Homo sapiens: one gene and its partners. The protein of the gene in region 2 purifies or fractionates together with the protein of the main gene of each other region. This does not show direct contact. Each region holds a gene or a part of one and is shown on either strand. Other genes may lie near its edges. The genes, in order: TTC21A, IFT52 and IFT172.

What was found.
Region 1: the proteins of IFT52 (region 2) and TTC21A purify together in Homo sapiens (co-immunoprecipitation; one study listed by IntAct). This does not show direct contact.
Region 3: the proteins of IFT52 (region 2) and IFT172 purify together in Homo sapiens (affinity purification with mass spectrometry; one large-scale study listed by BioGRID and IntAct). This does not show direct contact.

What each region holds. Positions count from the first base shown.
Region 1 is NC_000003.12:39,135,052-39,138,700, reverse strand, and holds part of TTC21A (tetratricopeptide repeat protein 21A), read right to left. Parts: intron 3,609-3,649; coding exon 3,527-3,608; intron 2,372-3,526; coding exon of another isoform or gene 2,345-2,371; coding exon 2,194-2,344; intron 1,803-2,193; coding exon 1,641-1,802; intron 1,522-1,640; coding exon of another isoform or gene 1,507-1,521; coding exon 1,314-1,506; intron 1,216-1,313; coding exon 991-1,215; intron 496-990; exon of another isoform or gene 435-495; coding exon 314-434; intron 146-313; coding exon 78-145; coding exon of another isoform or gene 21-77; exon of another isoform or gene 1-20. UniProt on the Homo sapiens protein: Intraflagellar transport (IFT)-associated protein required for spermatogenesis. Required for sperm flagellar formation and intraflagellar transport.
Region 2 is NC_000020.11:43,635,937-43,639,585, reverse strand, and holds part of IFT52 (intraflagellar transport protein 52 homolog), read right to left. Parts: coding exon 3,573-3,649; intron 2,442-3,572; coding exon 2,333-2,441; intron 1-2,332. UniProt on the Homo sapiens protein: Involved in ciliogenesis as part of a complex involved in intraflagellar transport (IFT), the bi-directional movement of particles required for the assembly, maintenance and functioning of primary cilia. Required for the anterograde transport of IFT88.
Region 3 is NC_000002.12:27,451,665-27,455,313, forward strand, and holds part of IFT172 (intraflagellar transport protein 172 homolog), read right to left. Parts: intron 2,997-3,649; coding exon 2,903-2,996; intron 2,755-2,902; coding exon 2,690-2,754; intron 2,499-2,689; coding exon 2,318-2,498; intron 2,076-2,317; coding exon 1,966-2,075; intron 1,850-1,965; coding exon 1,720-1,849; intron 1,607-1,719; coding exon of another isoform or gene 1,574-1,606; exon of another isoform or gene 1,473-1,573; intron 1-1,472. UniProt on the Homo sapiens protein: Required for the maintenance and formation of cilia. Plays an indirect role in hedgehog (Hh) signaling, cilia being required for all activity of the hedgehog pathway.

The DNA of each region.
Region 1 (3,649 bases), on a different chromosome or scaffold from region 2:
GAGAGAATGGGTGTGCAGTATCATGCAGGTTTCCCCACCACTACACCAGGCCCTCCCCACCAAGGCTGCTGGCTTACATCGTTGCAGATTTCAATGGCCTCCACAAATTTCTTGTCCTTCAGGTAGTTGAAAGCAAGTTTGAAGCCTACCGGGGACATGGAGAGCAAAGATGGTGGCACCCTGGTGACCTGAGAACCCCTCTGGTTCTCATAACAGCCAGGGTACAGGCCTTGAGTTCTGGGGTCATGGTGGGGGCCCTCCTGCCCACCTCCCTCCCACGTCCATTCACGTGCACCCTGGCTGGTTGCCTTACCAATGGCAGGGTTGGCGTGATGACTGTACTTCCAGGCCAGTTTGTAGTTGGTGACTGCATCCTTGTAGGACTGCTCCTTCTCCATGATGAAGCCCATGTACTCATAGGCCTTGTAGCAGGACTGCAGGGAAAGCCAGTTAGAGCCTCTGCAGAGCGGAAGCCCCAACTGGTTCCCTGGGCCAGGGTGGGACTGGGACCAGAACCAGAAGCAGGCAAGGGACAGAAGTGAGCTGCCATAAACCAAACTGCCAAGGGACCCCAGGGGTACCCCAACCTTTGCAAGAAGCCAACTGTGTGCCCTCCTCTCAGCTACCCCAGACACTGGCGTAACCCCTTTCCCTGTAGCCCTCCTGTTCCGCCACTCCCATTCCTGGCCTGCTCTGACCTGCAAAAGTCCCTCCAGCTTGGAACCCATGAAGCTTTCCCATCTCTTTCTGTCCTTTAGTGTTCCCTCCTCTGGACATAACACGACCCCTGTGCACCTCCTCTCACCTGGTCCATCGCCCTTGATCCTCATTCCTATTCTGGTCTGTCGCCCATGTGCCCCTCTCAGCCTGCCTCTTCCCGACTAGTTCTTATTCCATATGGCCTCTACCTGCAAAGCCTGCTTCACCTTCCTGGAATGCCTAGAATCCTTTCCGCCATCCCGCAGCCCTAGTGTGTGTGTGGCTCCTTGCCTTGTTGTATTGCACACAGCGCCGCAGCAGTTCTAAGGCGAGGTCGAACTTGCTGCCCTGGCAGTAAATGTCAGCCAGCAGGAGCCAGCTCTTCTCCAGGTCCTCAGCCTCACTCAGCACCCAGGGGGTCTTGGCCAGGCGCTTCAACTGCATACGCGCCTTGGGGATCTGCTTCAGGAACACGTAGGCTTGTGCCAAGGCCAGCAGGGCAGGGACGCTGTCCTTCTACACACCAGGTAGGAAGTGGACGTCAGCACGTGTTGGCCGCCTGGTCTTCTCGGCCCTGCCACCTGCCCATGCCCGCCAGTCCCCACCAGCCACACCTCAGCCTGCGCTATCTGGATGAAGCTGCCCAGCGCAGCCTCCATGTTAGCCTTCTCCCTGGTGGCCAGCCGGCAGAGGCCCTGCAGCAGCCGCAGCTGGGTCTGGCTGGAGTCTGAATGTGGGTAAAACTCACGCAGCAGTTTCTCGGCGGTGCTCACACCCTGCTGCTCCAACTCCTTCTTCTCCATGTAGCTGCAGGTGTTAGACCTGGGTATCAGACACAGGCCGGTGGCCTGCCCGTGTGGCCCTCACCTGGCTTCAACCCAGAGGTTGCAGGCTTTCTGTAACTTCCCCAGGGTTCCGCCCCTGCCTCCATGGGCCCTTACTTGCTCTCAGCTCCCTGGTTCTCAAAAGCCTCTCCGCCCACAACCTCGTTGTCTGGATTCAGACAGATCTGCACCATGTGGTAGATGGCGCTCTGGCCCCAAGTGCTGTCCTTGCGTGCCTTGTTCAGGAACTTTAAGGCTTCGTTGGGCTGCCCTATGTGCCTGTGGTGGAGAAAACACCAAGAATCAGTGAGGGAAACTGAGGCCCAGACAGGGCAGGGATATACAAGGACCACTTTGTGAGTCTGCACAAAGCAGAGGCTGGATCTCTGGTTTCCCAGCTCCCCTGGAGGAGATGCGGGCGTCGGACCTGTGTGTTGGATGCAGGCTGGTGGCCTGCCCAAGTGGCCCTCACCTGGCCTCCATCCAGAGGCTGCAGGCTCTCCCTGACTTCCACAGGGTTCCACCCCTGCCCCCATGGGCCCTCACTTGCTGGGTCCGGGTGTCCTGGAGGCAGAATTTCTGCTCCTTTTGTGCAGAGCAAGGGCCTAGCCTATCTGCCAGTAGGGCTTCCTGCACACAGCTGCCCCTCAACACACCACACCCAACTCACCAGCAGTAGATACCTCTGCAGTAATTGAACCCTGGTTCCAAAGGCACCCGGCTAGACACCTTCTTGGCCAATTCAAAGAAGGCAGGAATGTCTTCAAGTTTTCCACTTCTTCTTAGCAGATCGATTAATTTATGCAATACCAAAAAATTGTCTAAAATAAGAGACAGAAATCTCCAGGCTGAAATGCCCAGTAGCTGTTATCAGATGAGGGTGCTGGGGCCCTAGGAGAAGCCAAGAGATACTGCCCATCTGGGCTGAGCAGGGACATTCCAACAGCTCCAGAGTCTCCACTGGTCTCCAGGGTTGAGTAAAGAATAATACTAATGCTTAAAAATAGTAAAGAATAGCAGCTAACACTTATATAGCACTTATATTGTACCTGGTATTAAGTGCTTTACCTATATATTAACTGCAAGATTAGGTAGGTACCTAATCTTTTTTTTTTTTTTTGAGACGGAGTCTCGCCCTGTCACCCAGGCTGGAGTGCAGTGGCGTGATCTCGGCTCACTGCAAGCTCTGCCTCCTGGGTTCATGCCATTTTCCTGCCTCAGCCCACCCCCGAGTAGCTGGGACTACAGGCACCCGCCACCACGCCCGGCCAATTTTTTTGTATTTTTAGTAGAGACAGGGTTTCACCGTGTAGCCAGGATGGTTTCGATCCCCTGACCTTGTGATCTGCCCGCCTCGGGTTCCCAAAGTGCTAGGATTACAGGTGTGAGCCACCATGCCCGGCCTAGGTAGGTACTCTTATTGTGTCTGTTTTACAGATGAGGACACTGAGACATGGAGAAATAATTTGCTGAAAGTTGCACAACCAGTAAGTGGTAGACCAGGACTCAGACCCAGGCAGCCTGGCCCCAGCACCCATACTCCTAACCGTGGTGACCTCCTGGGCCTATGGGCACACTGCCATGGGCCTGCCAGGGCTCCAACCTGAGCCTCAGGTCTGGCCCCTTTCCCCAGCAATAAGGGGTGGTTTTACGCTGCAGTGAATGGGAATGAAGCTATACAACGGGGGAGAATTTCTAGTCCCTACAAGTGGCTGTGACCTCAAAAGGGGACTGTGTCAAGCCCCATTGGCTGTGATTTGGGGACAGACATGCTGTCCTGGGTCCAGTGCCAAGTCCTTGAGACCAGGAACTGGCCCCTTGGACTCGGGAAGGGCCGGCACGTTCCACTGGGTCTTTATCAGTTTCCTGCTTCTCTGGAACAATCAGGGAGGAAGGGGCTTCCTCTGCCCAGTCAGGAAGGAGGGAGAGGTCCCACCCTTCTCTGGGAGAGCGGCCCTTGCTCAGTGGGAACTGGTACAGGCAGTCTCCATGGGCAGAATTACCTGGCGCTTTCTCCAAGACTTGGTGGTAAAGATTGATGGCCGCTTCATGTTTCTGTTTTCTAAACATCAGGTCAGCCATCAACTATCAGAAAACACACAAAGCTCCAGATTTCCCAACAGTGG
Region 2 (3,649 bases):
CGATTCTCCTGCCTCAGCCTCCCCAGTAGCTGGGATTACAGGCATGCGCCACCACACCCAGCTAATTTTGTATTTTTAGTAGAGAAGGGGTTTCTCCATGTTGGTCAGGCTGGTCTTGAACTCCCAACCTCAGGTGATCTGCCCACCTTGGCCTCCCAATGTGCCGGGATTACAGGCGTGAGCCACTGCACCCAGCCTTTTTTTTTGTTTTTTTGAGACAAGGTCTCATTATGTTGTCCAAGCTGGTCTTGAAATCCCAGCCTCAACTGATCCTCCTGCCTTGGCTTTTTGAAGTGTTCAGATTATAGGCATGATCCACCGTGCTCAGGCAATTTTTTTTTTTTTTTTTGTAGAGATGGGGTCTATGTGACCCAGGCTTATTTCATACTCTTTTTAACCAATCCCCCTAATGATGGATGGACCATTAGACTGTTTCCAATTTTTTGAATGCTATAATTAATATCTATATCTTTTTTGTCTTGCATTTCTACAAGGATTTCCATAGGACAGTTGCTAGAAACAGAAATGCCAAGTCAAAGCTGCTTCTTCACCGTTCTGTGATTCCTCCTGGACTCATCACTATGTCCTGCTCATTTTTGACTGCCCAGGACCCACAGCAATGCCTGCCACAGAAGAGAGATGCAGTAAAGGTCTTCGTTTACACTGAACTGTTTCCATTTTGCTTACTTCTTTCTGGGCTTTGGGCACATACAGATGTTACTGACATAGCTGGTATCCTCTTGTACATGCAGTTTTATATCTTGCTTTCTTCATTCAGGATTCTCTCTTAAATTCTGTCTGTGTCATATGTGTCATTCCCTAGCCTTTGTGAACCTCTTTTATAATGACTACATATTCTCCTACCAAATGAATGTGACGCATTTTAAGACCATTACTCTGCTAGTGGACATTAAAGCTATTCCCAAATTTATAGTTTTTTTCTATTTTTAAAAATTGTTATTTTTTTAAAATATATTTTTAGAGACAGGGTCTTGCTATGTTGCCCAGACTGGTCTTAAATTCCTAAGTTCAAGCGATCCTCCTACCTCAGCCTCCCGAGTTTATTGTATTTTAAAAATAAATAGTGTAGAAGTTGGCCGGACGTGGTGGCTCATGCCTGTAATCCCAGCACTTTGGGAGGCTGAGGCGGGTGGATCACCTGAGGTCTGGAGTTTTAGACCAGCTTGGCCAACATGGTAAAACCCCATCTCTACTAAAAACACAAAAATTAGCCATGCGTGGCGGTGGGCAACTGTAATCCCAGCTACTTGGGAGGCTGAGGCAGGAGAATCGCTTGAACTCAGGAGGCGGAGGTTACCTCGAGCTGAGATAGCACTATTGCACCCAAGGCTGGGCGACAAGAGTGAAACTTTGTCTCAAAAAAAAAAAAAATATAATCTCCTTAGATTAGAGTTCCAGGAGTGGGGTCACTGCCTCAAAGTGGATGGTTAATTTTATGCCTCTGAGCATATATGTGCAGACCCATTTGCTGTGTTGGAGGCAATTCATGTCAGGAGCAGCCCCAGACCAAAAGTCAGGAGGACCACTCACCGTGGAGCTGTGTGGCCTGGGGCCTCATTTCTTCATCCACATGTCAAGGTGGGCACACTTGGCTCTCTCTCAGATCCTGTCCAATTTGAAGTCTCTATCATTCTTTGGGCCTTACTCAATTTCCTTATTTAGCTGCTCCTATGACCACTGACTGAGATTTGCTAAGTGGCAGCCAGGGTCAAGATTAATTCTATGGTCTCTCAATAGGTCAGAACTAAGGACTCACAGGGATCAAAGCTGAGACCTTTGGCTTTCTGCTTGGCACTATGTTCTAATTCACTGAACTAAATAGCCTCGAGAAGAACAACCAACATTATTTACATGACATAAATAAGAATGGTAAGTTTATACTCCTATTCATATTTTGTTTTCCCTAAACAAACTCTAAGCAGTCTCTCATAGCAATTCTCAGAAATTCATGATTAAATAAAACTCATAAGAGAAAACAAAGTTTAAAAGTTGGCCAAACTTAGGCCAGGCATGGTGGCTCACGCCTGTAATCCCAGCACTCTGGGAGGCCGAGGCGGGCTGATCGCCTGAGGTCAGGAGTTTGAGACCAGCCTGACCAATATGATGAAACCCCGTCTCTACTAAAAATACAAAAATTAGCTGGGCGTGGTGGCGCATGCCTGTAATCCCAGCTACTCGGGAGGCTGAGACAGGAGAATCGCTTGAACCTGGGAGACAGAGGTTGCAGTGAGCCGAGATCGCACCATTGCACTCCAGCCTGGGCAACAAGAGTGAAACTCTGTCTCAAAAAAAAAAAGTTCGCCAAACTTACACTTATTGGTAATCTGAGCCAGCCGTGCCTTCTCAGAGGAGAACGTTTCATCTAAATCAAATAGCTCCAGAGGAGGAGGTGGTAACTCCCGGAAACTGGGAGGAAAAACCTAAAAGGAAATAAAGTCATTATTTAGAAATGAGGGAGGATAAGGTAAAGGAAATAAAGTCTCTCAAGAAAGAGCTTGTCCAAAATCATAACTAACAGTGATAAGACACAAGGAGAATAAGGAAGTTCACATCCTTAATTCCTCAGTTGGGAACCACACCACATGGAAACCCCTACAGAACAGTAACTCGGCTCTTCCCTGAGGATGAAATACCCAAACTCCCATCACCTCGTCTACCCTCACCCATTAGACCCATACCAAGAAAGATTATTAGCCCACTGTAAACAACCAAGTAGAACCAGCTCTAATTACCACTAAACTGACCAAGCTGACATACCAATGCTAATTAACTCAGAACGATGACACAAAGCTTGGGGCTTAGGTTTGTGTTGAACATTTGATTGTACAACTTGTTTCTCATTTAATCATAAGTTTTTAGGGATGGAAGTTATTTGGAGAACCAGATGCAGATTAGTGTAGAAAGTATTGAACCTGGAGTCACATTTTGTAGGTATGAACCAATGGTATGCGGGTAAATGTTTAACTACTTTCAAAACAAAACAAAACTGAAGGCCTGTTTTGTAGCATTTACCATTTTCTGTAATGTAAATCCTCTCACCATGGCCAATTTCAAGCTACCAAGCAAGATCAAGCTAACTGGCTCATAACATTTCAGAATGTGGTGAGACAAGGTAATTTTAAAGGCAAGTTGAATGTTGGACTGAAATGTTGAAAAATAACCTATTTACACACATGACCATAACTATCCCCTGGGCTGTGAGAATTATGTTATGAATCAGGCCCTGACACCTGGAATGGCAGTACAAAGTTTTCTTCCTTTTTATCCAAGAAATCTCATATATGCCCTCCAACCCCACAAGATGAGAATAGGAAATGTTTAATAGCCAGAAGGCTCCACATCCTTGATTCCTCAATTTGGAAGCATACCACATGGAAGTCTCTATAGAACATTAACAAATTTGGTGTCCATGCATGTTTAGAGACAGAGCACTATGACTCCACAAGGAGTGCCACAAATGGCACATGGAAGGGACCACAGCGAATGCCTGCTGACAAGATAAGGGCAACAGTGGGGCTCTGCAGTGGGATCTCCCAAGCACACCTACTCACCGCAGGCTGAAGGGTTGGCAGCGGCGTCTCAAACTGAGGCTGGATGAGCTGGAGTGGTTCATGTTTCACATTTAGCT
Region 3 (3,649 bases), on a different chromosome or scaffold from region 2:
CTGTGGCAGGAGAATGGCCTAAACCCAGGAGGCGGAGCTTGCAGTGAGCCGAGATTGCACCACTGCACTCCAGCCTGGGCGACAGAGCAAGACTCCGTCTCAAAAAACAAACAAACAAAATAAACAAACAAACAAAAAAACCTCAAAACCTAAGGGAAATTTTGCAGGGGCATCACCATACGAATATGTCATTTAGAGGGCCAATCTCACCCCCCTCATGACCCCCACTCACATTTCACTGTATCTAAGGTGCGTCATTTAAACTATACCTGCATCCCAATTTTAAATATATTAAAATATAATTATATATATGTATGTGTGTGTGTATATATATATATATATATGTTATTGTTAACTTTATGTATCAATTTGGGCTACAGGGTATCCGGGTATTTGGTCAAACATTATTCTGGGTGTTTCTATAAGTGTTTTTGGATGAGGTTAACATTTAAATTGGTAGACTGAGTAAAGCAAATTGCCCTCTCTACTGTGGATAGACCTCATCCAATCATTTCAAGGCATGAACAGAACATAAAGGCTGGCTCCTTCCCAAGTTAGAGAGAATTCTTCCTGTTTGACTGCCTTTAAACTGGGACACTGGCTTTTTCCTGCCTTCAGATTTGAACTGAAACATCAGCTCTTCTTGGGTCTCAAGCTTGCTGGCCTTCAAACAAGAACTACACCATCAGTTCTCCTGGGTTTTCAGTTTGCCAGCTCACCTGCAGATCTTGGGCCTTGTCTATCTCCATAACTGCATGAGCCAATTCCTTTTAATAAATCTCTTTATATACATGTACACACATATACCTACAGTCATGCATTGTCTAATGATCAGTATGTTCTGAGAAATGTGTCCTTAGGGGATTTCATCATTATGTAAGCATCATAGCACAAACCTAGATGGTATAGTCTACTATACACCTAGGTAGAGGTTGCGTAGAGCTTATTGCTCCTAGGCCACAAACCTGTACAGCACATTTCTGTACTGACTACCTATAGGCAACCATAACACAATGGTAAGCATTTGTGTATTGAAACCTATTTAAGGCCAGGCGTGGGATCACCTCAAGGGATCCACCCACCTCAGCTTCCCAAAGTGCTAGAATTATAGGCGTGAGCCACCATGCCCACCCATGTGGTCTACTGTTGACCAAAACGTTGTTATATGGCATATGACTGTATATATCCTGTTGGTTTCTCCAATACAGTATGTCTTATTATTTGTGACACATACTGGCCTGGCTTAATTTGCTGGAAGCTTCTTTTCAGGAAATGTTGGGTGGGGGAGGTGGAGCCCATGCTTTTTTCATGTTCCCTGTCTGGCCAGTTCCTGTGCCTGGAGTTGCCCTTCCAGCTCCTGTCCAAGTCTTCCCTCCTTCTTCACAGAGCCTTCCTGACCCCTCTAGCCCACAGAGATCTCACTGTTCTCTGAACTCTACTTTAAATCATGCACTTTAGTCTTTACTCAGATATGATAGTAATTGAGCCATTTATTGGTCTAATTCCCCTAACTTTTGGCTGTCAGGGCTCTGTCTTATATCCACTTTTATAGCCTTCAGAGGTTCTGGCTCTATCATCCAGCAGGCACTCCATAGATTCCTGCTACCTGATTGAAAAGAAAAAGACACAAGAGGAAAGAGCTGAAGATGTGAGAAGCAGAGCCAAGTGTGAATAGAGGCCTAGGGAGAAGGAGGGCCAGAAAGGGCCTGCTGTCCTCACCTTCATCCAGCACTTCTCCGCCAGGCCGCTGTTTCCAGAGTCTCGCACTTTGAGGTAGCAGTCCACGGCACGGCTGTACTCTCCAGCCTGCTCCCAGTGTCGAGCTTGTTCCACAAATCCCTCCACACCCCTGTGGAGATGAGAGCGCTGGGACTTGGCATGGTAGGGGGGCAGCATGCTCTATCCTGTGTATGCCTCATGACCCTCCCAGCCCTGCCAATGCTGCCTGGACCTCTGGCCTCATACCTGGCCCCCTTCTTAGTAGCTTCCCGCTCATATTCTTCCTGCAGAGCCTCCAGCTGGCTGGGCACATAGTCCTTGCAGATGCGCAGAGCGTCACTCCATAATCCAGCCTCCTGCTCAGATTTCCAGGTATCAAGAGGGCAGAGGCAGGCCTGACAGCTTCCCACTGCCACACAGGTACTCTGGCCCACAGACTCCTGGGTCCTTGGACCTCTCTTCTCCTCCTCTTTCCTGTCTTCCCCACTCCCCAATACTAACCTCCCTGATCTTTCTTCATACCAGGGGTCAGTGTGGCTCTCTGTGGGCTCTTACAAACTCTCCCCCTCCCCTCATGGCCCTGCATCCAGTGCCCCACCTTATAATAATTGAGGGCCAGGCCTGGTCTCTGGGCCCGGAGCAGCAGCCCTTCTGCTTTCTGAAAGTCCTTCTCCTCCAAGGCCCCCCGGGCCTGTCCCACAAGCACCTCGGCGACACTGTCAGGGTCGTGAGCCTCAGCCACACGCTGAGCTGCCTCCCAATCCTGGTTATGGACAAACCTGCCTCCAGGTGGGGACAGAGGAGAGACTGAGTATAGGACTGAGGCCCCAATAGTGGGAGACAAACAGCCATGTCACTGAGGGGTGTAACACTGATTTGTTCTAGGTTTGAATGAAGGTCAAGATAATCATGAAAGATCCTGGGACGGTGACTGGGGAAACAGTATTAAGGAATGTATGGGGTAACTCACATGAGGACTGCCTCCTTGGGTTTACCAGCTCTGATGAATTCAGCTTCAGCCTCTTCGAATTTACCCTACAGGGAGAGAAAGGCAGCCGTGCATGATGAGAAGGAGACTGGCATCACAGGCAGGCATGAGACTGGGGGTCTGCACACCCAGCAGCAGTGCACTAGGGGATGGAATAAGAGGGCTCTGCGGTCGGGGTCCAAATCACACCCATACCTCATCCTCCAGGAACATAGCATATTTGAGATGAACCTCGGGGGTTTTGTGCTTGAGGGCCAGCCGAGAGAGTTCAAACGCAAATTCAAAGGAGCTGAAACAGAAAGTGCAGATAAAGTTTTCTTGCTTCATGCTTCCCTTCATAAAAGGAACAAGACAAAACAGAGAAAGGACAGAGTTGAGGGGAGAAAAAGTGACAGATTTAAGGATAACAAATATGAAGTGACAGAAAAGCGTGGAGAGATAAAAAGGAAGACGGGCAGGCAGCCCTGTGAAGACCATGTCACTGTCAGCGTGGATCAAGAGACGTCTGGAAAAGCCTATGCCTTCCCTGAGGCCAGCTGCTCCTGAGGAATTAGTTTGGGCCTGCGAAGGGGAAGGGAGGAGTGAGCCTCGCAGCCCTACACTGACAGGGCTAGGAGGGCTCCTGGTGCTCTCCATCTCTTCCTGAGCCCCAGCTACATTAGCAGAAACAGAGTCTCTCCAAAAAATGAGCAAGACCACCCTCAGCATCGGACTCCATGATTGGCACTGATAACAGTAGCTTGAGAACACTTTGCTCTTTTGGCTATCTTTCTGCACCGCCGCAATAGTGCGCATGAATGTCCTGGCTGATGTGCTCAAGAGCATCAACAATGCCAGAAAGAGAGGCAAACGGCAGGTCCTTATTAGGCTGTGCTCCAAAGTCATCGTCTGGTTTCTAATTGTGATGCTGAAGTATGGTAAATTGGCGATTTTGAAATAATT